Regions from separate parts of the Homo sapiens genome. Here region 1 is linked to region 2. The links come from fine-mapping of genetic effects on gene expression. A gene starts in region 2. The other region holds a variant in brackets. All regions are shown on one strand. Distances are from middle to middle. Region 1 overlaps MCM10 (minichromosome maintenance 10 replication initiation factor). Region 2 holds the start of MCM10 (minichromosome maintenance 10 replication initiation factor).

Region 1 (15,513 bases), 25 kb before region 2:
ACTCGGGAGGCTGAAGCAGGACAATCGCTTGAATCTGGGAGGAGGAGGTTGCAGTGAGCCGAGATTGCGCCACTGCACTCCAGTCTGGGTGACAGAGTGAGACTCCTTCTCAAAAAATAAATAAATAAATAAATAAATAAATAAATAAATAAATAAACGTAAAAAAAGGATTCCTTAAACCACCATTTTACAGTCTCACCTCAACAATTCCAAGCATTGTTTTCCTACTGTCAATGCCTCTGGTTATAAAACACTATCTTCCTCTAGGCTACCTCTTGTAGCCTGACAAGAAAAAGTGTTGAGATAACAGATCTAACTTTCTTTTAGTATTATGTTGACACTACCATGTTTTCAAATTACACTGACTCTAATGATCACGATCAATAAAGAGCTATTAGGTGTCTGTCTTTCCTCCAGCTCTGCTCTACAGAATGCAAACTCAAGTGCTAAAGAGAAGAGATGCCAGTTACCTTTTTGGCTTCTGCTAAAGCACTCAGTTTTGGTCTTGGTGGTGGTGACTCATCATAAAAGAGAACATCATCTCCTTCCAAGACACCTCGCCCCAGCTTGGGCGTCATTGTGGCCGGGGCTCCCTCCAGCCTGGGGAACTCGGATCCTGTCCGTGGAGGCTGAGCAGGGGGCTGTCTTGATGAAGATGGCACAGCTGGGCTCTCAACTTCACTTGAGCTCTGCAGAAATCTTTAAAGAACATACAGTCAAAATACGCAAACAGGGTTTACGAAAATAAAAACTCTAGAACTCAAAGTGGACTGGGAGGCGGCAGGCAGGCCACCAGTTGGGAGCTAGTTGTTAGCAAAATAATGTCCCCTTCTAGGCTGGTAATTCAAATTTGCACACGATAAGAACAATACTAGCTTTACTAACTCCTCCTTAATTGAGTTTTCTTTGAATAAGCTGTAATTGTCCTAACACTTTAGAACTGATAACTGTTTTTATCAATTGGCTGTCCAGTGGATGTCATCCACAAGGAACACAGCTGAAGACGCGGTGTGAACTGTATTCCCACCCCTACCGTCAGCTCTAGGGCCTGTAGGAACTCATTGCACCTCCCTGCATCTTTGTTTATGCTACTGGGAAGAGACAATACATGTGAGACATTTGGAAGTCATTAATGAAAAACACTGTAACTTGCAGCGATTATTTTACATCCCCTTTCTTTTTTTTGATTTTTTTGAGACAGAGTCTCGCTGTGTCACCCAGGCTGGAGTGCAGTGGCATGATCTTGGCTCACTGCAACCTCTGCCTCCCAGGTTCAAGTGATTCTCGTGCCTCAGCCTCCCAAGTGTTGGGATTATAGGCGTGAGCTATCATGCCTGGCAAAAAATAGTTTTAAGAGCTATTTTACTTTTGTTTTTGGAGACAGGGTCTTGCTTTGTCACCCAGACTAGAGTGCGTTGGCACGATTGCGGCTCGCTGCCACCTCTGCCTCCCAGGCTCAGGTGATCCTCCCACCTCAGCCTCCCGAGTAGCTGGGTCCACAGTGTGCACCACCATGCCCAGCTAATCTTTGTACTGTTTGTAGAGACAGGATTTCGCCATTTTGCTCAGGTTGGTCTCAAACTCCTGGGCTCAGGCGATCTGCCTGCCTCGGCCTCCCAAAGTGCTAGGATTACAGACATAAGCCACCAAGCCAGCCTCATAAGAGATATTTAAAAACAAATAACAAACCCCAGAAATCATCTAGTCCAAACTTCTCATTTGATCGATGAAGAAACTGAGGCCTAGGATCACATTACTCACAAGGGCCAGACTCAGGATTAGAGCCAGGCCATCCCAGAGCAGTACTCTTCCCAACCGCACAGCCACTCTTGCAAGCTCTAGGCTGTGTTTGCAAACTGCCTATCAAATCCTACGCAAAGATAAGGTTTCCTTGGCCAACAAAATTCTGAAAATTTTCATTACGCAATGCCTTCAAGCTGATGGGCATTCTCTATTTCCCACGAGGCCCCCAACTCCATACATATTTCTGTGTCCACGTATATAATTTATGTCATCTGTAGGCTCAAGATGAATAGCTCTATAGATATCCCACCGGCACTTCAAACTAATCTGCCTGAGACCAAACCCATTCTCTTACTTTCCCAAAGAATTTCCTCTTGTCTTATCATTGACTCCCTTTCATGGATGTGGTTGCCTTTCAGCAGCCCAGATTCGGGATGGCAAAAGGTTCAGCACCAGAGCACAACATGTGTGAGCCCAAAACTCGGCCCCACCATAAACTAGCTCTCTGATCTCCAGGCACACTATTAGTAAAACAAGGCTGAGAAGCCTCCGGAGGCTCAGATACTGTGTTTATGGAGTACGTATGAAGTGCCTGTGAACCGCAGCTCTCATTAGTATTCAGGTGACCTGAGTTCAGGAATCATTCATTTGTCCACCTACCCTATGCATTTCCACTTGATTTTTTTTTTTTTTAATTATTGGCTGAAGCCAAGTAACACATTTCCACTTGCTTTTGCCTCTAAAATGACTCTCCATTTTTAGTGCTTCAGTTTTGTCCTTTATCCAAAGAACTGTATTCTACTCACTGGCTCTGCCTGTCATAAAAAACTGAATTGCGGCAAAACCCAGAAATGGCAGCCAGGCAAATCCAGGCTTGCGTCCAGGAATTTGAGACCAGCTTGGGCAATATGGCAAAACCCAGTCTCTATAAAAAAATACAAAAATTAGCCAAGCATAGTGGCACATGCCTGTAGTCCCAACTACTTGGGAGGCCAAGGCAGGAGGATCATTTGAGCCTGGGACATGGAGGTTGCAGTGAGCCGACACTGCAGCATTGCACTTCAGCTGGGGTGACAGAGTGAAAACCCGTCTCAGAAAAAAAAAAGAGAGAGAGAGAGAAAATGACAGCCAGCATGTGAACCTACGCTCTCCCCCTTCACAAAAACCCTCTTTACATACACTTCACTCCTTTCCCTTTTCCATGGTGATAACGACTCTAACCTGTACCATTTGGTGTTGGGAGTCACCAGTGTAAGAAATAATACAGCCTTAAATGCTATTCAGGTTATGGGAAAACTATTTTAAACTTTCAGAGTTAAAACGCAGCCAACCGAAACCTGAAGTCACATTCTGGAAATCGATGAAGACGTTCTGAGGACGCCTGAGATGGATGACCCAAGCGGGGAATATTAAATCTGCTCCTCTTACCGCTTCTGTATTTCTTCTGATTTCCTTCTCCTCATCTCCAACATCCGCTGCTTCTGTTGCTTCAAGAGTGCTGAGGCCGAGATGGACTTGATGGCTGGTTTTGGGCTCCCCATAATCCCTGAAACAGAAGCCCAGACTGAGGGGGTGCCCTGGGAGGCTGAGGGAACACAGGGACACACGTGTGGCCATGCAGCTGATGGTACCTGAAGCTGTGGCTTTGGCTAAATGTTGTTTTAAGTTCCTGGCTCCACACGTCGGCAGGTCCATCAGTTCCTTGAACTCCTCAGAGCAAGACAGGCTCTTCTGGGGTATTCCTGTGCCAGGTCAACACCAGCTTTAGAGGATTCACATTCAGATGGTTTGAGGTCATATGACATACCACTTTCTAAACTCTGCACTTGTAATTTTAGTCATACGTAAACGAAGAAGACGGAATCCCAAGAGGAAAGAAAAGAATCCTTAACCTCTATCATCAGACTCATAGGATGGCAGGGTATCTCGACTATATTTTATTTCTAGTAATGATTAGAATATTAAGCCCTTAAATCTGGGGGTCATTCCATACCCTGTTTCTGGAATATCCGCTAAGGATAAGGGTCCCTGACCACAAGCCCAGGATGGGGGCTGCATTCTCTGATCAAGACTTGTTTTTATTTGTTTTTATTTTATTAAAAATTTTTTTGTTTTTATGACCAAGACCCATTTTAACAAAAGATAACCAATAAGCTTGGCCAGGAAGATAATACTGCTGATTCTAATGCTGGATGTAAAGAGTTGGACCCAGATACACCAAGAAATTTTAAAAAGCATACTAAGGTAAGACATAGCTAAAATCAATATGCTGTTTTTTTCCTTAAGGTCCTGCAAACCTGGCTTGATTCCTTTAGGTTAGACCGCGCCACTCACTAAGTACAGGTGATGACTGGATTCTTATTACTTAAGAGTATGAGCTGTATCCATTTTCAACCCTAAAGACTGCTTGCTTGCTTGCTTGCTTGCTTGCTTATTTATTTATTTTTGTGCATGAATAAGTTCTTAGTGGTGATTTCTGAGATTTTGGTGTACCCATCACCGGAGCAGTGTACCCTGTACCCAATGTGTAGTCTTTTATCCCTAAGGCTGCATAATTAAACTGGAGAAAGAAATTTCTTATGGAAAAACAAAGTTACCGAGTTTTTGCCGTGTTTCCTGGATGATCAAGTTTGTGCCCTTAACAACCAGATTACTCAGAGTGGTTTGAATCTTCTTCTTAGGAGCCACAGCTGCTGCACTGAAATGACAAGTCACCCCCAAAAGGAGAATCACTAAAGCCTCAATGCTCTGATGAGGTAAAGAAGGCATAGATATCATCATTTATTACACACACCGTCAAAGTTTCTCAAAACACCATCTAAGTAGGCTTTCTTAATGTTACGGCCCAATAGCATAACTGGTTTATGCACTGTGTCACAGAGGAAAAGCTAGAGGCAGCCTACAAATCCACTTGAGGCCATTCTGGAAGGAAATTTGGCAAAAGAAATAAAAAAAAAGCCAATGCTTTGATCCAGCAGTCTGGATATTTATCTTAAAATAATTAAGGATTATGCAAAAATTTAGGATATTAATGGCAGCTTTGTTTATAATGTCATACATTGGAAACACCATTAACGTTCACCCACAGGGAATTGTTTAAATGAATTAAGGCAGAGTATGCAAAAGAACACTATGTAGCCACTGAAAATACATGAGAAAAACATTAATTATTTTACACTGGAAAAAAAGTGGATACAAAGAATAGGAACAATATGATCTCATTTTATATTACTAAAAATGTACACATATGAAGAAACACAACACCTAGGAGTATATATACCAAGGAACTAACAGTTTGGGGTTTTTTTTTTGAGACAAGATCTCACTCTGTTGTCCAGCCTGGAGTACAGTGGAGCAATCCTGACTCACTGCAGCCTCAACTTCCCCAGGCTCAAGCAATTCTCCCATCTCAGCCTCCCAAACAGCTGGGACTACAGGCATGTGCCACCATGCCCAGCTAATTTTTTTTGCATTTTGTAGAGATGGGGTTTTGCCATGTCGCTCAGGCGGGTCTCAAATTCCTGGGCTTAAGCAATCCTCCTGCCTTGGCCTCCCGAAGTGCTGGGATTACAGGTGTAAGCCACTGTGCCTGGCCTAGAACTAACAGTTTTTCAGGTGATAGGATTATAGTTGGTTTTTATTTTCTCCATTGGTTGGATTGTATGTTCTTTTAAAAGACTAATATACATGTATTGTTTTAGCAGATTGGAAAAATTCAGAAATAATTTTAAATCTCAAAAACATGCTTACTGTTAAAAAAGAAACAGGAAATGAGTCCTCTTGCCCCATTCCTGCTGGATTGGGAACAAAAATCTATGTTTTATTCTTGGACCAACTGTAGCTGCCTCGTGCCAAGTCCTCAGATATGCTTTATATAATGTAGTGACGAGGCCACTGATTACAAGCTTATCCAAACCATAGCCTGCGGGCCACATGCAGCCCAGGATGGCTTTGAATGCGGCCCAACACAAATTCATAAACTTTCTTAAAACATTAAGAGATTTTTCTTTTCTTTTCTTTCTTTTTTTAAGCTTATAGGCTATCATTAATATATTTTATGTGTAGTCCAAGACAATTCTTCCAAAGGGGCCCAGGGAAGCCAAAAGATTGGACACCCCTGGATTACAGCGTCAGGGGCTGTAGTGACTCTGAACCCCCAGGCAAGGGGCCATGGATGCCTGCCCAGCATCGCCCCACTCCCCATGTGAAGCTTCATAGTATATTCACTCACTGAATGAAATTTGGGTTCCATGAGGTCTGTAGCCTCACTCATATAGTCATACGAGAAATAATTAAAAGGGTGTTAACACTGTAATTAACACATTTTTAATGGCCCTGATGAAGGTGCACTATTCACATTAGAAGTCAAAGAGGGGCTGGGAGCAGTGGCTCATGCCTGTAATCCCAGCACTTTGGGAGGCCGAGGCAGGCAGATCACCTGAGGTCAGGATTTCGAGACCAGCCTGGCCATCATGGTGAAACCCTGTCTGTACCAAAAATGCAAAAATTAGCTGGGCGTGGTGGCACGCGCCTGTAGTCCCAGCTACTCAGGAGGCTGAGGCAGAAGAATCACCTAAACCCAGGACTTGGAGGTTGCAGTGAGCTGAGACTGCACCACTGCACTCCAGCCTGGGTGATAGAGTAAGACTCCGTCTCAAAAAAAAAAAAAAAAGTTGAAGAGGAAGAGTGGGCTCTCTTAAAGTCCAACACAACATAAGTCAATCTCTCTCTCTCCTGAAAGTTTTTCTCTCTACCTGGGAATAAAAGCGGTCTTTAACCAACTTGTTTCAAGTAGTGAGTTATGAAAGATAAAACCTGTACAAGTATCCTATGACGGTTACAGGAAGGTACAACCAGTAGGTTTAGTCTTTGATAAGCAAAATCCTCTGCCCAAAAGAAGCCCGAGAACGTCTTACATTGAAGCTGCATACGAGGCAGAAGAAACCCCTCCGTAGTAAAAGCCATCTTGGCACAGCCGTTCTTTGAGGCTGGTGCCTCTGCGGGCAAACTTCTTTGGAATTCGTCCTCCAGAGAAGGTGGACTGCAGATCCGCACGCTTTGCGCTGAGCTTCTTGTACTGAGCCTGGACATGGTACTGACAGTACTCACAGTCACGCTGCAAAAGGCAGAGCAGTGGCATCAGGATGAGGGCAACAGGC[T/C]GGGAAACAGCAGTGAGCAGACACAGTTCCTTCTCCCCACTTCCCGGAACATGACGCATGCAGAGTCCTCCCTGCTGACCTCCACGACCGTTCCCAATGTGGAAGGGCTGCTCAGTCCCTGAGGGGAAGAAGTTCTTCCCTTCGAGTCCCCTGAAAGCACTGTTCTGGTGAAATACCCCTTGCCCTCTTTCTACAAAGGAAATCAGCTTTTAGGATGAACCTTGAAAACAAGTTAGGTGAAAGAAGTCAGACACACAAGGTCCTATGTTATTTAATATAGGACCTATGTTATTTAATATAAAAGGAAGTTTTTATAGAAGAGGCAAATCCATAGAGACAGAAAGCAGATTAGACGTCACCAGGAGACGGAGGGAGTGGGGATGGGAGTGATGACTTTATGGTGCCATTGTTTTTACAGGGTGATGGAATTCTGAAACCAGGGAGCTGGTGGTTACACAACTAAATATCACTGAATTATATATGTATTTTAAAATGATTAACTGTATATTGTGAATTTTGACCCAATAAAAAATAATTTAAAAACAAAATCAGCTCCCAGCGAGGTTTTTCTAGCTGTTTCTCTGGTTGATCCTCGGACAAGTGCTATCCTTTCAGTGAAAGAAACAAAGAGAGATGGTGCAGCATTGTTCTGCTGGGTGAACAGTAGTTACGGCGACAATGGATTTTTTTTTGGAGACAGAGTCTCGCTCTGTCACCCAGGCTGGAGTGCAGTGGCGTGATCCTGGCCCACTGCAACCTCCAACTCCTAGGTTCAAGTGATTCTTCTGCCTCAGCCTCCCAAGTAGCTGGGATTACAGGTGTGCACAACCACGCCCAGCTAATTTTTGTATTTTTACTGGAGACGGGGTTTTACCATGTTGGCCAGGCTGGTCTTGAACTCCTGGCCTCAAGTGATCGGCCCACTTCGGCCACCCAAAGTGCAGGGATTACAAGTGTGAGCCACCGCCCCATCCAGACAATGGATTTTTAAGAATCTAATTCTCACGGGGAGATCTGTTGGGTACTTCACTCTGAAACCTCATTTTCCAACCGTCTCCCACCTTATTCTTTCCTGTCCACCAATTAATCTAATAGGAAGGAATAAGGGAATAAAAAAAGATTAAACCAAAACCTGTCATTTAATCCTTTCAAAGAACTCTAAGAAGTACCTCTTCACACCTACTACAATGGCTATAACAAAAAAGAAATAGAGTAACAGGTGCTGATGAGGACAGGGAGAAACTGGAAAGTTCATCCATTGCTGGTGGGCCACTTGGGAAACCAGTCTGGCAGTTCCTCCAAACTCTGGACAGTTACCATGTTGACCCAGCAATCCCACTCCCAGGTATATGCCCAAGGGAGTGGAAAACATACATCCACATAAAAACTTGTATGTGAGTGTTTTAGCAGCATTATTCATAATAGCTAAATGTGGCAACAACCCAAGCGTGTATCAACTGATGAAAGAATAAACAACGTATGGTATATCCATACAATGGAATATTATTTACCCACAAAAAGGAATAAAGTGTTGATAAATGCTACAGCACGGATCAATTGTGAGAAAAATTATGCTAAGCAAAAGAAGCCAGACAGAAAAGGCCACATATTGTGATTCCATTATATGAAATGTCTAGAAGAGGCAAATCCATAGAGACAGAAAGTAGGTTAGTGCTTACCAGGGGCTGGGGGAGAGGAGACTGGGGAGTGATTGCTAGTGGGTACTGGGTTTCTTTCTGGGGCAATGAAAGGGTTCTGAAATTACACAGTGGTGATGGTTGCACAGCTCTGTGAATGTACTAGAAATTACTGAATTGTTGACTTTATTTATTTATATTCTTTTTTGGAGACAGAATCTCACTCTATCGCCCAGGCTGGAGTATAATAGTGCGATCTCAGCTCACTGAAACCTCTGCCTTCCAGGTTCAAGTGATTCTCTGGCCTCAGCCTCCTGAGTAGCTGGAACTACAGGCGCCCACCACCATGACCGCCTAATTTTTGTATTTTTAGTAGAGATGGGGTTTCACCATGGTGGCCAGGCTAGTCTCAAACTCCTGATCTCAGATGATCTGTCCGCCTCGACCTCCCGAAGTGCTGAGATTACAAGAGTGAGCCACCACACCTGGCCTGAATTGCTTACTTTAAAAGGGTGAATTGCATGGTATGTGAATTATACCTAAATGAAGCTATTATTTTTTAAAAAGCCCTAAGAAAAGGTATAATGGAGTTAAAATATAGGCTAAAATACAATTTTCATTGTATTTCATCATGTTTGCTCTGTGGAATTACAAGAATTAAAGGCAAACAAAAATTCTGTCTTAAACTTCTTGGTCAGATAAAAGATCACTTTCCTAAGAGGTTAAATCCCCTCACCTTTCCCCTGCCCTCACTTTTTTAAACTGGCAGTTATTAACCACACATTAAATTTTCTCATTTTGACTCTTCCTTTAAGTGGGAAACTCAGTTCCAAACTGGTCATCACAGCTAAAGCACCAACAGTTTATTCCTAACTGTTCTTTTCTTTAGCAGAAACCATCCTAACAAGGCTGAAACCAACCAAATTCACAGTCTGCGTGCACGGCTCTCCATTCTTCTTCTTGGCTTTACAGGTTCCCAGGTCAAGAGCTTCACCCATAATTAAGACCTTCTGAGGATGATCGATAGATAAACACACCTGTAAGAAAAGGTGGGGCAGGAGTTAAAGGCGGACAAAATTATGGCCTTTTATTAGCAGGAATAGAAAAAAGAATGGTTGGTGCTGATTTAAGAAGGTTATTGCCAGGCGCAGTGGCTCACACCTATAATCCTAGCACTCTGGGAGGCCGAGGCAGGTGGATCGCTTGAGGCCAAGAGTTTGAGACTAGCCTAGGCAATGTGGCAAAACCCTGTCTCTACAAAAAACCACAAAAATTAGCCAGGCATGGTAGTGCGTGCATGTAGTCCCAGTTACTTGGGGGGCTGAAGTGGGAGGATCACTAGAGCTTGGGAAGTCCAGGCTGAAATGAGCTGTGATCACACCACTGCACTCCAGCCTGGGCAACAGAGTGAGGCCGTCTCAAAAAGGAGAGAGGTTTTAGTGGTCTAAAGGAATTTGAAGCCAGGGCTCTATAACCGTTTTAGGAACAGGGATGCAGAAGGCACCTTCAGTTCTTTTCCCATTTTCCATCCTTTCCTTCATCTTTGCGATTGGAATCCTGATTTTCTCTAGGCTGGCTGACTTCTCAGCCTCAGGTCATAGATCCTGTTCCCTGTTCTCCCAGCACTCCTTAGAGCTAGCATTGGTTATGTGATAAGTTCTAGATGCTCAGACATAAACAGGAGTTGGTAGGGAAGCTTCTGCTTTCCTGACAAAATGAGTTAGGAGGCTGGCTCCCCCTTCCTCTTCACTTCTTGCCTTGAATGGAGATGACTGGAGGGAGACAAGTCCCTCAAGGGCCTTGCTGAACTCAGCTCTCTCCCTTCTTGTTTGCAATTCTCTTCTTGGACAGACTGTACCAAGAGGGACTGTCCTGAATAGCTCGGGCTTTGTCCTCACCCCTCCTAGGACAAGATCTCTTACAACACTTGAGCTCAATAAGCCAAGTAGCCTCCAGGTTATAAAACCCAGATCAGGGTGCTTTCATAATCCCTCCGCTGCAGGGTGAAGAGAGCCATGAGCAGACAGGACTCTGCCTGCCTGGAGTGCCTTGACTGAGTCTTGGTGGACTGGCTCAACCCAGATCCTAGGCTTCTGTGGAGTCTCGCTGCCTAAGGTGCTTTGCCCAATTTGTGTGTGCTTTGTCTCCCGGATGCATACTCCTGTAGGCAGGCTTGTGCAAAGCTGCTGGTAGCTTGGTTTATGCTGAACCACTGGCAGCTGGGTTTGTACAAAGCTTCCAGCCAGATCTGGGAACCTACCAGATCTGGAAATAGTAGAAATTGGCAAGGTGTTTAGAGCCCTCCCACAGGACTGGTAAACAGTGCATGGTATTCCTCTCCAAGAAACTGGCACCCTTCCACGGTATGCCAATTCACAGTGATGGCTAGAGTTTCAAAGGCATCTTGTGACCAGGAGAGAAAGGCTGAGACTCACAGAGATGTCACTCTTAAATCACTATAGTGTTTAAATCTGAATTTTTTTAATATGTAAGAAAAATAAGCCCCACTGTTTATTGTTGAAAAGAAACTATACTTAAGTTTGTTTGTTACTTGCAGCCAAACACATTCCTAACCAATAGAGGAAGATTTGTTGCCATTCTCTGGTGAAAGCAAGGAATGAGATAACATTTTTCTCACTTCTCTTGAAAATAATAATCTGACTACAACAGAGTAAAGCTCCATGCTGGGTCAGAGTAGAGAAACTGCCAGTTGCTATTCACACTGTGTCTAGATTTGCAATTTCCTAGAGAAGCAGTAGGTAGTGCCAAAACTCTAGTATTTGAGAAGATGAAAATTCACTTTGATTTTAAACTGCAGCTATGGTTGTCACAGTCAACGGAGCAAAATCCCCTCAACTATAAAACACTGCTTTCTTGATGCCACCATAAAAATTTATATAAGGAATCATGCTGGGCACGGTGGCTCACACTTGTAATCCTAGTACTTTGGGAGGCCGAGGCGGGTAGATCACTTGAGCCCAGGGGTTCGAGACAAACCTGGGCAACATAGTGAAACCCTGTCTCTACAAAAAACACAAAAATAGGCTGGGCGTGGTGGCTCATGGCTGTAATCCCAGCACTTTAAGAGGCTGAGGCAGGTGGATCACCTGAGGTCAGGAGTTCAAAACCAGCCTGGCCAACATGGTAAAACTCGTCTCTAATAAAAATGCAAAAAAAATTAGCTAGGCATGGTGGCACATGCCTGTAATCCCAGCTGCTGAGGGTGAGGCAGGAGAACCACTTGAACCTGGGAGGTATAGGTTGAAGTGAGTCAAGATCACGCCATTGCACTCCAGCCTAGGCAACAAGAGCGAAACTCCATCACATACACACAAAAAAACCACAAAAATTAGCAGAGCATGGTGGCATGCACCTGTAGTTCCAGCTACTCAGGAGGCAGAAGTGGAAGTATCACTTACGCCCAGGAGACGGAGTTTGCAATGAGTCAAGAACACATGACTGTACTCCAGCCCGGGCAACAGAGCAAGACTCACTTTCAAAAAAAAAAAGAAGGTATGAATCCAAGGAAACCTGAGTACAATAGTTCAAAAACTCCAGGAACTTTGTAACTAATTTGAAAAGATGGAATAAAAGTAGTTGTTACAAAACACTTTAGAATAGGTGGAAATTCAGAATACTGATGGGTAATGAATGAACAAAAAATGAAAAGCCAGATTCACGGAGACACAATCACATAAAAGCATGACTTATTTTCTGGAGGTAGACTAATACAAACTTTTTTCTTTTCTTGTCTTTTTTTTTGAGATGGGGTCTTACTTTGTTACCTAGGTTGGAGTGCAGTGGCACAATCAGGGCTCACTACAGCCTCAACCTCCCACCGCAGCCTCCTGAATAGATGGAACTACAGTTGTGTGCCCCCACTCACAGCCAGTTTTTACATTTTTTGTAGAGATGGGGTTCTCACTATGTTGCCCAGGCTGGTCTTGAACTCCTGGGCTCAAGTGATCCTCCCGCTTTGGCCTCCCCAAAGTGTTAGGATTACAGGTGTGAGCCACTGTGTGCTGCATCAAACATCTTTGATAAAACTCAGTTAACTTGTAAAGACAATCATCAATCAAATCCCAGAAACAGGCTCTTACCTCCTCTGAACCATCCTTGGGCTTCATGGGGTTGGCATTGAGGATCCCTACGACAGTCCCCTGCTCCGTCTTCCAGAGCGCTTTGTGAACTTCTCCAAATAAGAACAAGGACACACATTGTGTCAGGTCACGAAGATCATTCAGTTTCCATATGCTGAAGGTTTTTCCCTGGAACAAATAGTTATTTTTTATAATTTTGAACTGTAGGTTATGCCGTCCTCATTTATGATTCAAGAGTTTTACTATGGAAAACTATATGCCTATAATCCATAAAATCCAAGTTTTTTTGTTGTTATTCAAATATGTATCATCAGCATGTGTGATAACTTTAACCCATTCTCTAGGCTTTTGCATTCTATTACCCTTCTCATTTTAGAGATGAAAGTGAAATAAAGCAAGCCAGTGGCAAACTTGTTAGCAGAGTCTCTAGTTATCTCGGGTCTAAGCAGAGGGAGTGGGATAGCACTGCCTTTCTAATGACACAGAGACACACACACACATCATTAAAAGGACAGTGGAAGGTATGACAGTACCATTTAATAACTTACTGATATGAATCAATATTAGGTAAATGAGTAAATCTATTCCATATCATTGGTTAATTATATGATGATTATTATTTTTAGAGACAGAGTCTTGCTCTGTCATCCAGGTTGGAGTGCAGTGGTGCAATCATGTCCCGTTGCTCACTCCAACTCCTGGGCTCAAAGAATCCTCCATCCTCAGCCTCCCAAGCAGCTGGGACTACAGGCATGTGCTACCAGCCCCAGCTAATTTTTTTTTTCTTTTCATAGAGATGAGGTCTCACTATGTTGCCCAGACTGGTCATGAATTCCTGGGCTCAAGTGATCCTCCCACCCCATCCTCTCAAAGCGTTAGGGTTACAGACGTGAGCCACCAAGCCTAGCCTAAGTCTATTATTAATATGAAAAAAGAAGTTTCCTTTCTAGGCTATTACATCTCTGCTTAGCTTACAAAAGCATCATTTCAAGAAAACTGGTTGAGTTTAACCTTAACATTTCAGAAGTATGATTAAGTATCTGAAGAAATACAGCTCAAAATGCTGACCGATTATAATGTGAAAAACCTCCACTTTTACGGTTGTTTTTAAAACCAGAATACTGTGAATAATCTTGACTTGCACTATCTCACAGAGGCATCCCGGGCTGGGGATGGTTATGGGTTACAGCATGGAATCTACTGCCCGGACGCTGAGCTGGAATCCATCTTCCAGGGATTTGTGCAGTGCCTGTCTTGGAAGAGTTCAGATAAATTCTCGTGTCTATTATTATTATGTCATTACAGCCACTTATGAAGTAACTAAGAATTTGATCAAAGGAAAACCAGACCTGTCCACATTTACCTCAACAGTGACAGGGCTAGTGTAAGACCGGGTAATCTTTAATTTTTTAAAATTTTTTTAAGTTCTGGGGTACATGTGCAGGATGTGCAGGTTTGTTACATAGGTAAACGTGTGTCATGATGGTTTGCTGCACCTACTAACCCATCACATAGGTATAAAGCCTGCCATGCATTAGCTCTTTTCCCTAATGCTCTCCCCCTCCCTGCCCTCCACCAACAGGCCCCAGTGTGTGTTGTTCCCCTCCTTGTGTCCATGTGATCTCATTTATTTAGCTCCCACTTATAAGTGAGAACATGCAGCGTTTGGTTTTCTGTTCCTGCATTAGTTTGTGGAGGATAATGGCTTAGGACCAGGTACTCTTAAAATTCAACCCCATGTCAGCTCTAACGAAAAACCAAAGGTGGGCCAAGATCTAAATTAGAGAATAACATCATGATTGAGCATGATCAATCATAGCATTTTAGAGATAGGAGAGATTTTCAATCTAATCAAAGTCAGTTCCTTCATTTTATAAATAAGGAAATGGAAGCCGGTAAAGAAAGATTAACAGCCAACCTAAGGTAACATCGCTAGTTAAAGGCACAAGGCTTAGAAGACAGGCTATCTGACTTGCCAGGTCACAGAATAACTTTCCCATTTATGACTCAGTCAAAAGTGATTTTGAAACTTGTTAGATCTTTGGTAATAACCATCAAATTAAATATATCACACGGCACTGACACAGGCCAGCAATTTCAGCACTTTTGTGGTTGGTACTTTACATCTAAAGGGACCTCCAAAGAATCGGTGAGCTCAGCCTCTTTGGTTACTTGCGCCTCTCCTCCATGGGAGAGATCACAGTGTCACAGGGACAACCACATGTGTCACCCAAAACAATGACAAGTGAAATGCAGTAAGGATGATTTGGACAATGGAAAGCCCAAGAAACCTGTACCACCAGGTCTTATTTAAATAGGGCATCCTTTGCTTATACCCGCTGGATACCAACTCAATGATGTGTGGTGATTCTGGAACTTACTATACTTATTTCTAAATGAAACACCAACAGGTTCCAGTTAACAAATTCAGGACATCGAATTCCCACTGTCAGTTTGTAGTAAAACAGCTAAGAAACCAATACAATGGCTTACACTATTCACACTCTGTGGCGTAACCTTCTTCAATATAACCCCAAATGTCACCCAATCTATTTCTTCCAGCTTCTCTCTGGCCATCTTTTCCTTGATCTGAGACAGTCTGATCAGTTTTCGGCCGGTCATTTTCTTGTTCATTTCTGTGGAGGATACTCGAGGCCGCCTGGGTTAAGAAACCAGCGATTAGTAATTATGATTCTAATAAAGAAATTACCTGGCACCTTAGCAGGTGGTAAGGGAGTGTGATGGTCAGAAACCTCTACAGTACCTGTTCTTGGGAAGCTTAGTTATATAGTATGACCAAGGCATCCATTTTTATAGCAAATAAATAAATAATTCTTTTTTTTTTTTTTAAAGATGGAGTCTCACTCTGTTGCC
Region 2 (15,513 bases):
TATATACATCTCTGTAACAAGCCTGAATCTAAAATGAAAGCTGAAACTAAAAAAACAAACAAACAAACAAACAAAAAAAACAAAAACCTACAGATGCACCATTTTGCCTGGTCTTTGTTCTCCTTGTCTCCATCTTTCTTGTCCCCAGGTGCTTCTTAGGGGACACTGGGCTAAGAAGGAGCCAATACTGCTTAGTGAGTAGAGTGGGCCAGCCACGGGGCCAAATGTCCTCAAGCATTCTACTCCAATCAATGAGACAGCTTCCCGCACACCGACTTCCATGAAATTCAACCAACAAGGGAATAATTTTAAAACACCAAACATAGATTTAGGCTTTAGATGTATATAATTCCTGACCTTCAAATTATTTGAGATTTAAAAAAAAAAAGATACAAACTATATAAAAAATACTAAGATCCCATCACCCAGAATTAGCCATCATTAACATTTTGTTGTTTGCTTCTTGCCTTTAACATTAAATAACACCTTCCAGATGAAGTCTGTCATGCCAAATCTTATCCCAACTCCTGACCACTGCCCCCACTTCCCATTGTAATCACTTTCATAATTTTGAGGCATCATTCCAGTCCATTCTTATGCTTTTACATAAATATATAGGCAGTCATAGTCAATCTATATTAGATGGTTTTAAAAATATTTACATAAATATTCCACACTGCATTACTCTGCATTCCAGGTTCATTCAACATTGCTTGTAAGATTAACCCAAATCAAAACATATAGTTCTAGCCAGGCGTGGTGGCTCACGCCTGTAATCCCAGCACTTGGGGAGGCCAAGGCAGGAGGATCACCTGACATCAGGAGCTCAAGACCAGCCTGGCCAAGAAAGTGAAACCCCGTCTCTACTAATAATACAAAAATTAGCTGGGCGTGGTGGCCCGTGCCTGTAATCCCAGCTATTCAGGAGGCTGAGGCAGAAGAATTGATGGAACCTGGGAGGTGGAGGTTGCAGTGAGCCGAGATCGCACCACTGCACTCCAGCCTGGGTGACAGGGCGAGACTCCATCTCAAAAACAAACAAAAAACCCCATATAGTTCTAGTTTCTTTCTTTTCGTTGCTATATTGTATCCTATAATAAGACTGTATCACACCTCATTAATCCATTTTCCAATAAAGGACAATATGGGCTATTTCTAATTTTTCCCCACTACTAAATACGCTGTAATCGTGTATCCGTCTTCTCGCACATGTGTTTCTTGGGAATATCTATCAGAAATGGAATTGCTGGATTGCTGGGTATCCACGTTTTCCAATTTTGCTAGATGCTGCCAAATTGTTCTCAAAGTGGATGCACTCTTGAAATGGCATAGTTCGTCTGGGGTAATACCTGAGGTTCGTTGTCTCATGCAAAGGAAATCAAGGATGCTGACACACAAGGAGTGAGGTTAAGTGCAGAGATTTAATAGGCAAAAGAAAGAGAAGAGCTCTCGGCAGCAGAGAGGTCCCAGAGAAATGGGTTGCCGCGTCCATGGCAAAATGCATGGGGTTTCATAGACGAGCTTGAGGACGCAATGTCTGATTTACACAGGACATAAAAGATTGGCTGGACTAGGTATGCCATTTGCATAGGGTGGAAAACCTGGCTGCCCCACCCTAATCTTTTATTATGCAGGTGGTTCTCTACCTGGCCAGCGCCATATTGTCTGTTTCTTTACTGTACACGTGGTTGACACAGAAAAAGGGCCGCCATGTTGAACACGCCTGGCCCCCAGGGAGCCTTTTCCTATTGGCACAGCTGCAGGTATTCATCCGTGCAAATTACTAGCTTGCTTTTCTATGTCCGCTTGATTTTTCTGGCTGGCCTTGTTAGAAATTACTTGGGGGCTGCTTTTTGCTAAAAGGGAAATTCTGCTGAGGACTCTGTTGCCCTTACTATCTCCCTAAATAATTGCTATCATCTGTATCACTCTCACTAGAGCTGTACACAAGGGCCACTTCTCCCCACCACCTCATCAATATCTGATGTGTCACTTAAATATTTTTTTGTCAATCTGATGGACGATTTAAAAAGGCATCTCACTGTTTTGATTTGCATTTCTTGGATTACTGGTGAGGTTAAGAATTGTTTGTTTATTTGCCAATCGGATTTCTTCTTTCTTGATTTATCTATTTTCTTTGCTCTTTTTTCCCCCCTATTTGGGCACTATTTGTTTATAAAATCAGAGGTATTCAATGGAAAAATATTAAGGATATCTGACCTACTCTCCTTGTCTGAAATTCAGGGGCTAGAGTATGAGAGGGTGAGGGGCTTGTTCAGGATCACATGGAGAAACAGATCAGTTCAGGAGCTGGGTTAATAAGGAATCTCTAGATCAGCAAACCAATATCCTTTCCACCACTCTACACTCCCTTACCAGAAGGAAAAAGCCAGTAGCCAAACTTCAGGCCTAGAATCTGATGATGGGGCCTAATGCTCAGTCAGAGGTTGTATAAGGATTAGCTTGAGTTGCTTAGTCCACAAAGACTCCAAGGCTGCACAGTGCAAGAGAGAAGAGGCCAGGCAGCCCCCTGTGCTCTGAGAATGTCACATGCCTGCAAGGAAGCAAAGAGGCCTCCACCATCTCTTGTTCCCGTCTGCCAAAGAGGGCACACCCCGGGAAGAGGCTCTGGCTCACACCACTGGGGGCCACAGGTGGAAAATGCTGCCTGGGGACCCCATACTATTCACTTTGAACCCTTCACAAGAGAACGAGGGCTAATCCCATGGTGCCTCACAACCCCGTTTACCTCAGTCACCACCAAAAATCATGTCTTCTCTGTATTACGCTGACTCAATCTCCCAGCCTCTTTGTTCTCAAACCCCTGGGATGTGAAATCTACTATCAGCACGTTTCTCGGATCCCCAGTGGCTCTTACAACAGAAATCTGGCTACCCCTGGAAGCCTCTTGAATGGAAAGCATTTAATTGTTCACACCTCACATGGCAATGTCTAGAATAGTGTTCGGCACGTATTAGGCATGCAACAAATACTTGTTGATCAACTTCAGGTTCCTGATGTCTTCTTTATCACTGTCACTTTGGAATGATTCAGTCTTTTTCCAGATCACAGCTCTCTGAAGTTCAAGACACCAGACGCTGGCATCAAGAACCCCTCATGGCACTGTCATGTGCTGATCATCATATGTGTATCATGCATGCCCCCCCCGGTCCTCCCCTCCATCTCTACTGTTATCACCCTCCTGGGGCACTTCAACCTCCGCAAGGATGATCCAGCCAACATCTTGGTCGCTGGGTTTCTCATCCACTCCCCATCTTAGCTACCCACTCCCATAGTAACTCCAACTCATCACAGCAAAGCACAACTGACCTCTGAACGTCCCTCTGTGATCCAACCTCCCATCCTTTCAGCCCGCTCACTCTAGTATTCACATCCAGCAGCTCTTCAGCTTCATCCACATGTCTAACCCATCAGCCTACCTACAATGTGTTTCCTGTCCATCACCCCCTGCCCCTAATGCCCTCCCTGTGGATCCATGTTCAACACCATCATCACTCACTGCCTTCTAAAGACTCAGCTCCCTGGCTGGTGAATGGTCCTGGAGAAAGACTCGCTACCATGCTGACTGGTCTTTTTTGTTTGTTTATTTATTTATTTATTTTTCAAGACAGGGTCACACAGGCTGGAGTGCAGTGTTGCAATCTTAGCTCACTATAGCCTCAAACTCCTGGGCTCAAGCGATCCTCTTGCCTTAGCCTCCCAAGCAGCAGGGACTAGAGGTGCACACCACCATGCCCAGCTTATTAAATATTTTTTTGTAGAAATGGGGTCTTGCCATGTTGCCCAGTCTCGTCTTGAACTCCTGGCCTCAAGCGATGCTCCTGCCTTGGCTTCCTAAAGTGCTGGGACTACAGGTATGATCAACAAGACCCTGCCTCAGTCTAACTTTAAATTTTTGCACACCCATAACAAACAAGCATTCAGCACTGCTTAAAGATTCCCACACTTCCTCAATTCATTCGCTTTCCCAGGCTCTGACCACTTCACACTGTCTCTCCTCAAACCTCCTATGCCCACTCCCCACTCTTTACTCTTAGCTGATGATATATATATATATATATATATATATATGTATGTATGTATTTTTTTTTTTTTTTGAGACAGAGTTTTGCTCTTGTTGCCCAGGCTGGAGTGCAATGGCACGATCTCGGCTCACTGCAACCTTCACCTCCCAGGTTCAAGTGATTCTCCTGCCTCAGCCTCCCGAGTAGCTGGGATTACAGGCATGTGCCACCACGCCCAGCTAATTTTGTATTTTCAGTAGAGATGGGGTTTCTCCATGTTGGTCAGGCTGGTCTCGAACTCCTGACCTCAGGTGATCCACCTGCCTTGGCCTTTCAACGTGCTGGGATTACAGGCGTGAGCCACAGCGCCCAGCCCTTGGCTTATATTTTACAGAAAAAATAGATGTAATCAGACTTCCTCATCCTTCACTCCCAACTCTGAACGTATCTTCTCTGCTTTCCCTCCTGGGACTAAGTATCTAGTGCTATTCACAGCCAATTCTTCCACTTACATTCTTACATTGGGTCCCACTTCTCAGCTTCTCAAAGACTTCATTCTACAATTACCACCTCTCTGGCTCCTGAATCCCCAGTTTCTCCCTCTCCTCTGAAGCACTCCTGTCAGCATACAAAGACATAGCAGTGTCTCCCATCTACTAACTACCCGTTTATTGTTTTGTTATCTTTCTCCCTCCACTAAAATATAAGCAGGAACATTGTTCAACAGTATATCCCAAGTACCATACAGTCTCCGATTTCCTCTACACCGGCCAAATTGTGAACCCATGCCAATCAAATGAGATTTTCTTACTAAATATTATGATTTCTTTTTCCTCTTTTTTTTTTTTTTTTTCAGATGGAGTCTTGCTCTGTCACCCAGGCTGGAGGTGCAGTAGTGGGATCTCGATGCAATGCAACCTCTGCCTCCCAGATTCAAGTGATCCTCCAGCCTCAGCCTCCTGAGTAGCTGGGATTACAGTCACATGCCACCACACCAGGTTAATTTTTGTAGTTTTAGTAGAAATGGGGTTTCACTATGTTAGCCGGGCTGGCCTCGAACTCCTGACCTCAGGTGATCCACCCACCTTGGCCTCCCAAAGTGCTGGGATTACAGGCATGAGCCACCGCACCCAGCCTAAACATTATGATTTCTTCTTTCTTGACCTATACTGTTTCCAGATAGATACTATGATTTCTTAGAGAACAGGTATCCATTCACCTCTTATTTTCATGTCAATCTGATAGCAAAAAGTGATGCTTTGTATTATATAACCTGCCCTGTAGGCAATTTGCCAATTTTAAGAAACAGGAAACTACCATGATAGCATCAGGCAATGAGTTTCACATAAGGAATAACCCCTTATCTGAGGGTTTATTTTCTGTGGTTTTGATTTTCCATGGTCACTGTGGTTGAGGACAGTACAATGGATATTTTGAGAGTGCAATAGATACTTTAGAGAGAGACCACATTCACATAACTTTTATTACAGTATATTGTCATAATTGTTCCATTTTATTATTGTTGTTCATCTCTCACTGTGCCTAATTCATAAATTATACTTTATCACACGTATGTATGTACAGGAAAAAACACAGCATGCCTAGGGTTTGGTACCATCCTGGGTTTCAGGCATCTGCTGGGAGTGTGGAAACACATCTCTCAGGGACAACGGGGGTCCACTGTGCATCACAGTGTGAGGAATTTCAAGTTTTGTTTTAAAGGGCAAAGTGTAATATGTTTGAATTTTTTAAAAAAACCCAGTTTCAGATTATGAGTTCAATTATGCAACTAGATCTCTTCACAACCAGCACAATCATTTTAATTTTTTAAAAATAGAAATGAGGTCTCACTCTATTGCCCAGGCTGGTCTTGAACTCTTGGGCTCAAGCAATCCTCCCACCCCGGCCTCCCAAAGTGTTGAGATCACAGGCGTGAGCCACTGCGTCCAGCCCAGCACAATCATTTTAGGTGATCGCTAATTAGTGCAACATCTCTTTTCTAGGTAAACATTTTGTACACATCCTTGCAAAATGAACAAAATTAGAAAGGATGATATTAATAAAAACTTAAGTCAGAGCTAGACTAATATCGCTTCAGCAGATTTCATTATCAAATGTAAACTCTGAAGTCAGACTGCCTGGTTCAAAGCCCTGCTATGCCAGCTTGAACTGTGACAAGTTACTAAACATCCCTGTTTTTCTGCCTATAAAATACGTTTGCCTGAGGACTGAATCAGTTAATTTCCACAAGGATCTTGGAGCAGTGCCTGGCCCACTGTACACCTACCAGCTATTGTAATTATGAAAGACAATCTCTGTTGCCAGAAGAAATCTCCCCTGATAAAAGCAAGTAACATTCAGTGACCTCTGTGAGATGTGAGATTGCTTCAGAACCACTAAGACAATACCTGAGGGCTGGGGAGCATTTTCACCATTTTACAGGTAGAATAAATAACAAGTCCATGGACAAAAGGTTAGTTTTCCTTGAAACAGAGTAACAGAAAACTGCCAGGTCTTACCATCCATGCTGTCAAGAGGACAGTTGTGACAGGAAACTTCGAAGGAGGCTCAGATGCCCAGATGAGCAATGTAGAATCTTGGCTGTGTGAAAGCAATATTAGAAATGTCACTTTCAATTCTTCTCTTTCTCTCACAACACACATCCAACAAACCCAGAATCCTACCACTCCTATGGGCTCTAACCTCAGAATTCATCCAGAATCTGACCATTTCTCACCTCCTCTCTCCACACCGCCAATGCCATCTCCTTCCTTGGATGTAGCAGCTCACTTTTACTTGTGTTTAAGGTTACAGAAAGTTATTGAGCTGCAGAGCAGTTTGTAAATCACACTAGATTACGTGGATGAGATAAATTATGAGGAAGAACTATTGGGGTTGGCTAGGTACAGTGGCTCAACGCCTGTAATACCAGCACTTTGGGAAGCTAAGGTGGGCGCATCACTTGAGGCCAGAAGTTTGAGACCAGCCTGGTCACATAGCAAGACCTTGTCTTTTTTAAAAATTACACACACACACACACAAATTATTGGGGTCGATCTACATTAGGCTATTCTTTCATTTTATTCACTGTAATACACCTGACATCTGCGTTATCCACGACAGCTTACTGTATGATTCTACTTAGGTGGAGCCTTAGTGACAATCAGGATTTTGATTCAATACTAGTCAGCAAAGCACAGAGAAACAGCGTAGCTAATTAAGACAAAGTTGTATCACTTTGTGCACTTCTCTTTTCATTTAAGGTTATTTTTTAAACTGCAAGTAAGAAAGTATACATTTTTCTAGGCTCTTATTTAACTTACATGTGCTCTTTGGCAAGTTCAATGTCAAGGAACTAATTACAGTGATTATGGTACTTTCTTTTCTTTTTTTAGACAGGATCTCGCTCTGTCGCTGGGGCTGGAGTGCAGTGGTGCTATTGGCTCACTACAACCTCCGCCTCCCAGGCTCCAGTGATTCTCCTGCCCCAGCCTCCCAAGTAGCTGGGATTACAAACGTGCACTACCACACCCGGCTAATTTTTGTGTTTTTTGTAGAGACAGGGTTTCGCCATGTTGCCCAGGCTGGTCTTGAACTCCTGATGTCAAGTGATCCATCAGCCTTGGACTCCCAAAGGTGCTTTTTTTTTTTTTTGAGACGGAGTCTCTGTCACCCAGGCTGGAGTGCAATGGGGCGATCTTGGCTCACTGCAAGCTCCGCCTCCCGGGTTCACGCCATTCTCCTGCCTCAGCCTCCCGAGTAGCTGGGACTACAGGCGCCCGCCACCACGCCCGGCTAATTTTTTGTATTTTTAGTAGAGATGGGGTTTCACCGTATTAGCCAGGATGGTCTCGATCTCCTGACCTGGTGATCCGTCCGCCTTGGCCTCCCAAAGCGCTGGGATTACAGGCGTGAGCCACCGCGCCTGGCCGCTTTTTAAAAATTCATTCAACCAACATTTCCACGGATCCCTCATGTGCCACACACTGTGCTATCTACTGGGGAACCTATTGGACAGTAAGCTTCCTGAGCGTTAGGAGCAAACTGTCTCGTTCAAGTCTGTAACCGGCCTTGCCTTCCCCCAAAATGAAACTGTGCACCCTCCCTCGCCCTCAAATCCACGGCCACTGACAAGTACTGTGGTCCCATCTCCAAAACACTGCTCAAATCTGCCACTTCTCTCCAACTTCACTGCCAGAACCCTAGGCCAAGCCACCGTCAACCTTTAACCCAATGACTGTGTTAGCTTTCTATGTTGGTCTCTTTGTCCCCGTGCAATCTGTTCTGCATACGACAGCCACGGTAATCTTCCCTTTCCTTAGTAACCTTTAGGAACATAAATCAGATCATGGGGGTCCCTTCATTGAAATTCTTTAATGATTTTCCATTGCCCTTAGAAAAAATCTACAAAGCCTGCGAGGCAATGATTCATATTCTCTCTCTCTTTCCAAGCTTTCTACTCCCTCACATTTTCCACAATCCACCACGTCCAATTCTACCCACCCCGACACCCATAACGATGCTCCAGCCGGGCCAGCCCGCTTCCACCTTCTGGAACACACTAAGCTGCTTTGAGGTCTCAGGCTCTGTCGAAGAAAGCTCCCCCCAGGTCCTTCTCGCCCTTCGGTCTCCACTTACTCATCTTTCTGAGACTTTCTGGACCACCCTGAGTCGTCCACTGTCGTGCATTTGTTTACTACCTGCTCGTGCCTTTAAACTGTAAGCGCTGTGAAGGCAGCGGAAATGTGATCCGAGCCATGCACACCGTCCGCATTCAATAATCATTGGCAAATCATGAATACGAGAAACCAATGAATGAATGAATGAATGAATGAATAAAAGAAAGCCCAGGCGGCAGGCACTTGGCAAGCACTTAAAAGGCTGCGTTTAAAAGGAAGAACCCGATTCCTTAGTAGACGGCCAGCAACTCCCAGCCCCCGGCCCGGCCATGCCAGCTCCGAGCGGTCCCAAGCTGCCGCCAAATCCAGATCGCGCCCACCCGAGCTCCCGGGACCCCGCGCCTCTAGCCTCGGACCCCTTGCAACCCGCGCAGAGACGTGCGAGGCGGCCCCGGCCCCGCCGCCCGAGGGTCACACGCACGCCCGGGGCCCGCGCTCCTCACCCGATGCCGGGACGCCTTCTTCGTTCACAGCTGAACCCGCCAAAATTCCAACCGGATCCCGCCCCTGCCTTGACGTCAGACGCACGCGGCTGTGGGGCAGCACTGACTGGCTACGCCAGCGAATCCCGGCCCTGGCACAGAGCAATCGGATTGGTTTACGTCATTGGACGCCCTCTTTGTTGGGGGCAAGGGACCTTCCTGTCGGTAGAAGCCAGTCTCCTTTAGGTAAAATAGAGTGTCTGGCGCCCCCTGGTGCCGGGAAGTTTAAGTCATCCCACCCAGTATTTTCCCTGCGGTCCCATCCCACCTCAACTCCTGACGCTCTGGGACCGACTGTTCCTTTGTCAGCCTTATGTCCATTCGAAATGTTTGGGCTCAGGACCAAACAGATCCGGTCCACTTTTACCCTGTCTGACCTTGGGGAAGTGACTTATCTCTCTGAGTTTCCCCTTCACCATCTGTGCAGTGAGGGAAAGGGTAGATGACATCTTTTACACTGAAACCACCATTTCCCGAGTAATTCCTGTTCCATAGATTTTGGGACTTCTAAGGGGCGTCAGGGCTGAAGAGAACTTATCAGCAGACCATATCTTTCACAGATTTTTTTTTCAGTAAAATTCAGGCCTCTTTATGTATTTACATTCTAAAAAATAGTGTTTGTACATAATACTAAGAACATAGTTTCTAAATGCAGAATAACATTTAGCTTTTACATAATTTCAAGGGATTGATAGCAGAAGAGACTTTGATGGACCAAATGGCCACTTTAAGTCTTTCCCCCCTTTTCCTCCTTGCAGACACTGTTCAGGCACTGCAGTTCCCCCACTAATAATCCCTTTGGTATAAGATCCTATCTCTATCCACTACGTACTTTCATTTTCAGAACAATTAAAATCGACTTTAGGAAGACTGAAGATAAACAGTCCTGATGCCATCTACGTTGACTTTTTTCTGTGTCCTAATGGAATATTACTGCTCCATTTATGAGCTCAGCCCTATTACTTAAACCTATATTGGCTCAGGAATAGGAATACAACCATTTCTGAGAGCTGCTAGTGTTAAAAATTCATAGTAATGGAGGAACTCTAGTAATCAAATTGAAAAAGTATGTTTAAATGCGTACTTTTAAACATACGGCACTAAGGCCGGGCACGGTGGCTCACCCCTGTAATCCCAGCACTTTGGGAGGCCGAGGTGGGTGGATCACGAGGTTAGGAGTTCGAGACCAGCCTGGCCAACATGGTGAAACCCCATCTCTACTAAAAACACACACAACACAAAAATTAGCTGGGCGTAGTGGTGCGCGTCTGTAATCCCAGCTACTTGGGAGGCTGAGGCGGAGAATCGCTTGAACCTGGGAGGTGGCGATTGCAGTGATGAGCCGAGATCTCGCCACTGCACTCCAGCCTGGCGACAGAGCCAGACTCTGTCTAAATAAATAAATAAATAAATAAATAAATAAATAAATAAATGCATCACTACATCTAGTTATTAAAAAAAAAAGATTCGTCATAGATTTATTCTTAGCCATTATGCAGAAATTCCTTGACTAATTCTGATCAGTACTCTGAAGTTCTTTTCTTCACCTTCACTTTCCAGGTCCTCTTTGCATCCAGTTCCGGGCAAGGAGTCAGAAACAGAACCAACCTAAGCCCGCAAACCTTCCTTAAGTGAAGAATCAAGCACTTTTTATTGGAATTAGTATAGTGGTGACTTTGAGAAAAGAAGTGGAGGTGATTTTGAGAAACAATTAGGCAAATAGATTTTTTAAAATCCATTGAATGTGGCTTTTCCGTGCCGATAGCGCTCACACAAACATTACGAAGTTTCCTAAAACCCGCCAGACTTTCTATAAGAAGTGTGGCAAGCACCAACCCCACAAAGTGACACTGTACACGAAGGAGAAGGATTCTCTGTATGCCCAGGGAAAGCGGCGTTATGACAGGAAGCAGAGTGGCTATCGTGGGCAAATTAAGCCGATTTTCCAGGAAAGGGCTAAAACTACAGAAAATTGTGCCAAGGCTTGAGTGCGTTGAGCCCAGCTGCAGCTCTAAGAGAGTGCTGGCTATTAAAATATGCTAGCATTTTGAACTGGGAGGAGGTAAGAAGAGAAACGGCCAAGTGATCCAGTTCTAAGTGTCATGTTTTCTTTTATTATGAAGACAATAAAATCTTGAGTTTATATTTTTAAAACATCCATTGAATGTGGAGATATTAGCGAGAAGGAAGCAGAGAGGGGATGGGGAGACAGGTTTAGGATGACTGTTAGGTTTCTGATTTATACAATAGGGTCGTTTTTGAGGTTGTGCACTGAAGTAGGAGACATAGGAAGAACGGAACAGGTTTAGGGGAGAAGATAGATTTAGTTTTCTATTTCAGAATGAGATGTATGAGAGATGCTGATTAAGAAAGGCACGGTAGCCAGCTTGATCTCCAGATCTGGGGTTCTAAGGAGAGGCCTGGACTCTCCTTAGAATACAAACGAAGGCCAAAAAAGAACAGCTCTGACAGTTATCAACATCTATCTAAAATGAAATCTAAAGCAAACAGCCCATATTGCAGTGGTCCTTAACCTTTTTTGGGCGGTAGGAGGATGTTTATCACAGACCCCTTTAATGTATTAAAAGTGGGCCGGGCACGGTGGCTCATGTCTGTAATCCCAGGACTTTGGGAGGCCGAAGCTGGCAGATCACCTGAGGTCAGGAGTTCGAGACCAGTCTGGCCAACATGGTGAAACCTCATCTCTACTAAAAAAAATGCAAAAATGAACCGGAAGTATTGGCGCATGCTTGTAATCCCAGCTACGCGGGAGGCTGAGGCAGTAGAATCGCTTGAACCCGGAAGACGGAGGTTGCAGTGGGCCGAGATCGGCCACTGCACTCCAGCCTAGGCAACAAGAGCAAAACTCCGCCTCAAAAAAACAAAAAACAAAAAAAAACACAAAAAGTCCAAGCCGAGCCCTTCCTGCTCCCTCTAGGAATCAAAATGGCGGCGAGGGAAAACTGGAGCAGTCCCGGAGCCTGAGCCACTGACAGGAGAGGAGAGGGCGGCGGCGGCGGTGGGAGGAGGATGGCGGCGGTGTGCTGGCGCCGGTGCCTGCCGCGGTGCTGGTGGCGGAGGCGGCGGGGGCGACGGCCGAGGTCCCTGCGGCAGCAGCAGCAGCGGCGGCGGGAGGAGCCTCCAGGTCGATTGAACTGTGGATGAGGAACCTACGGAATACGAAGGGCAGACTGTATAGTAAACACTTGAGGATGCTTGCTGTGTGGTTCTTACAGAATGCACTGTCCGTGTGTCTGGCTGCCCACAGCCTTTCATACTTCAATAGTATGCACTAAAGTAAGGTCTAATGGCCCTGTTCTCATAGAAATAGATGGAAAGAGGCTGCTGGATCCAGGGTTGAAGGTTCCTAATGGCCTCTAGGATTATACTCTGAAGAACCCGCAGACGGAATGCCTGAATGACTGAAGAAAATGGGTGCTAATGCATCTCATTATCCTCATCCATGTTCCGCGAAGGTAGGGGGAAATTCACAGGCCCAACAGACTTTTATAGGGACGTCATCCTATTCTCAGCAAGGCTATGGTTGTGAATCAAAATTGTATAGCCTTGACCATGGCCATGAGAAACCACAAGACAAAAAAAAGAGGCCGGGCACGGTGGCTCACGCCTGTAATCCCAGCACTTTGGGAGGCCGAGACGGGCGGATCACGACGTCAGGAGATCGAGACCATCCTGGCTAATATGGTGAAACCCTGTCTCTACTAAAAAATACAAAAAATTAGCCGGGCGTGGTGGCGGGCGCCTGTAGTCCCAGCTACTCGGGAGGCTGAGGCAGGAGAATGGCGGGAACCTGGGAGGCAGAGCTTGCAGTGAGCCGAGATCGAGCCACTGCACTCCAGCCTGGGCGACAAAGCCAGACTGTCTCAAAAAAAAAAAAAAAAAAAAAAAAAAAAAAAGACCTCTGGCCCTGCTACCTTCAAAAAGAACTTAATTAAGCCTCGAAAATCTGATAGGTCTGCCGATCATGCCAAGCAGATGCGAGAACTCCTCTCTGGGTGGGATATTAGAGATGTCAATGCATTAGCGGAGGAATATGAGGGAAGGTCAGCATTAAAGAAGCTTTCCCTACAAGCCAGTTTGGCTAGACCGGAAGCCCGGACATTGCAGAAAGATATGGCTGATCTTTATGAGTACAAGTATCGTACTGATACAGATTTCATATTTCAAGAAACTTGTTATCCTGTTCATCGTGCCATTTTGGCAGCAAGGTGTCCATTTTTTAAATGCTTTCTTCCTCACCTGAGTATGGGGCAGAGATAATAATGGACATCAATACAGCTGGTATTGATATGCCCATGTTTTCTGCTTTGTTATACTATCTTTATACAGGAGAGTTTGGAATGGAAGACTCAGGGTTTCAAAATGTCGTTATCCTTGTTCAGCTTAGTGAAGAATTCCCTTGATGTAGATATGCGTGGACTCTTTGATTACATGTGTTATTACGATGTCGTCCTTAGCTTTTCTTCAGACTCTGAACTGGTTGAAGCTTTTGGTGGACATCAGAACTGTTTAGATGAAGAGCTCAAAGCCCACAAGGCTGTTATTTCTGCACGGTCCCCATTTTTTCAAAATTTATTACAAAGGAGAATACCAACTGTTGAAGAAATCACAGATGGAACTTTGAGGACTCCCACAAGAATTATATTAGATGAGTCCATTATACCACAAAAATATGCAAAAGTGATATTACACTGTATGTATACCGACGCGGTGGACCTCTCTGTTTGGCACTGTAGCCCCTCTGTGGGGAGTCTCAGTGAAGTTCAGGCTCTCGTCGCAGGGAAGCCAAACATGACCAGGGCAGGAAAAGCCATGGAACTTTACCACACAGCACCGTTCTTGGAATTTAACATGCTTGCACAAGGTATGAAGTTCTGATTTTAAATTTTGATTTCTAGAATTATGTATTTATCTTCCAAACTGAAAATACAACTAGCATAGTCTATGATTTCAGTGTTTGGGATGTTACAGGGTCAGTTTTTTTGAACCTTCAGTTATGACATCTGAGACAGATTGAGCATCAGTATTAATGTGGTTCTTTACTATGAAAATCAAGCACTCAATACTATAAAATATTTTATATATCTATCTCTATATATATCTCTATCTATATCTATATATAGATAGATAAATTTATATATATCTATATATCTTTTTTATTTTATTATTATTATACTTTAAGTTTTAGGGTACATGTGCACAACGTGCAGGTTTGTTACATATGTACACATGTGCCATGTTGGTGTGCTGCACCCATTAACTCGTCATTTAGCATTAGGTATATCTCCTAATGCTATCCCTCCCCCGTCCCCCCTCCCCCAACCCCACAACATTCCTGGTGTGTGATGCTCCCCTTCCTGTGTCCATGTGTTCTCATTGTTCAATTCCCACCTATGAGTGAGAACATGTGGTGTTTGGTTTTTTGTCCTTGGGATAGTTTGCTGAGAATGATGGTTTCCAATTTCATCCATGTCCCTACAAAGGACATGATCTCATCATTTTTTATGGCTGCATAGTATTCCATGGTGTATATGTGCCACATTTTCTTAATCCAGACTATCGTTGTTGGACATTTAGGTTGGTTCCAAGTCTTTGCTATTGTGAATAGTGCCGCTATAAACATACGTGTACATGTGTCTTTATAGCAGCATGATTTATAATCCTTCAGGTATATACCCAGTAATGGGATGGCTGGGTCAAATGGTATTTCTAATTCTAGATCCCTGAGGAATCGCCACACTGACTTCCACAATGGTTGAACTAGTTTACAGTCCCACCAACAGTGTAAAAGTGTTCCTATTTCTCCACATCCTCTCCAACACCTGTTGTTTCATGACTTTTTAATGATTGCCATTCTAACTGGTGTGAGATGGTATCTCATTGTGGTTTTGATTTGCATTTCTCTGATGGCCAGTGATGATGAGCATTTTTTCATGTGTTTTTTGGCTGCATAAATGTCTTCTTTTGAGAAGTGTCTGTTCATATCCTTTGCCCACTTTTTGATGGGGTTGTTTGTTTTTTTCTTGTAAATTTGTTTGAGTTCATTGTAGATTCTGGATATTAGCCCTTTGTCAGATGAGTAGGTTGCAAAAATTTTCTCCCATTCTGTAGGTTGCCTGTTCACTCTGATGGTAGTTTCTTTTGCTGTGCAGAAGCTCTTTAGTTTAATTAGATCCCATTTGTCAATTTTGGCTTTTGTTGCCATTGCTTTTGGTGTTTTAGACATGAAGTCCTTGCCCATGCCTGTGTCCTGAATGGTATTGCCTAGGTTTTCTTCTAGGGTTTTTATGGTTTTAGGTCTAACAT

The links.
Region 1: its variant is fine-mapped to the expression of MCM10 in visceral fat (GTEx, PIP above 0.99). The same link has a PIP of 0.9 or more in breast, subcutaneous fat, thyroid and tibial nerve.

The regions. Positions count from the first base shown.
Region 1 is chr10:13,180,227-13,195,739 of GRCh38, reverse strand. It overlaps MCM10 (minichromosome maintenance 10 replication initiation factor), which reads right to left. Exons shown (of 20, transcript NM_018518.5): 7 at 15,133-15,298; 8 at 12,640-12,807; 9 at 9,460-9,576; 10 at 6,660-6,859; 11 at 4,341-4,441; 12 at 3,375-3,485; 13 at 3,172-3,289; 14 at 471-699. Among named protein-coding and RNA genes, the nearest start is that of MCM10, 26 kb to the right of the region's middle. The variant T/C (reference allele first, on the strand shown) is at 6,903.
Region 2 is chr10:13,155,241-13,170,753 of GRCh38, reverse strand. MCM10 (minichromosome maintenance 10 replication initiation factor) reads right to left here and starts at 9,196. Exons shown (of 20, transcript NM_018518.5): 1 at 9,148-9,196; 2 at 6,545-6,626. The coding sequence starts at 6,551. It also overlaps the pseudogene BTBD7P1 and the pseudogene RPL36AP36. RefSeq lists silencers at 8,932-9,111, 9,134-9,447.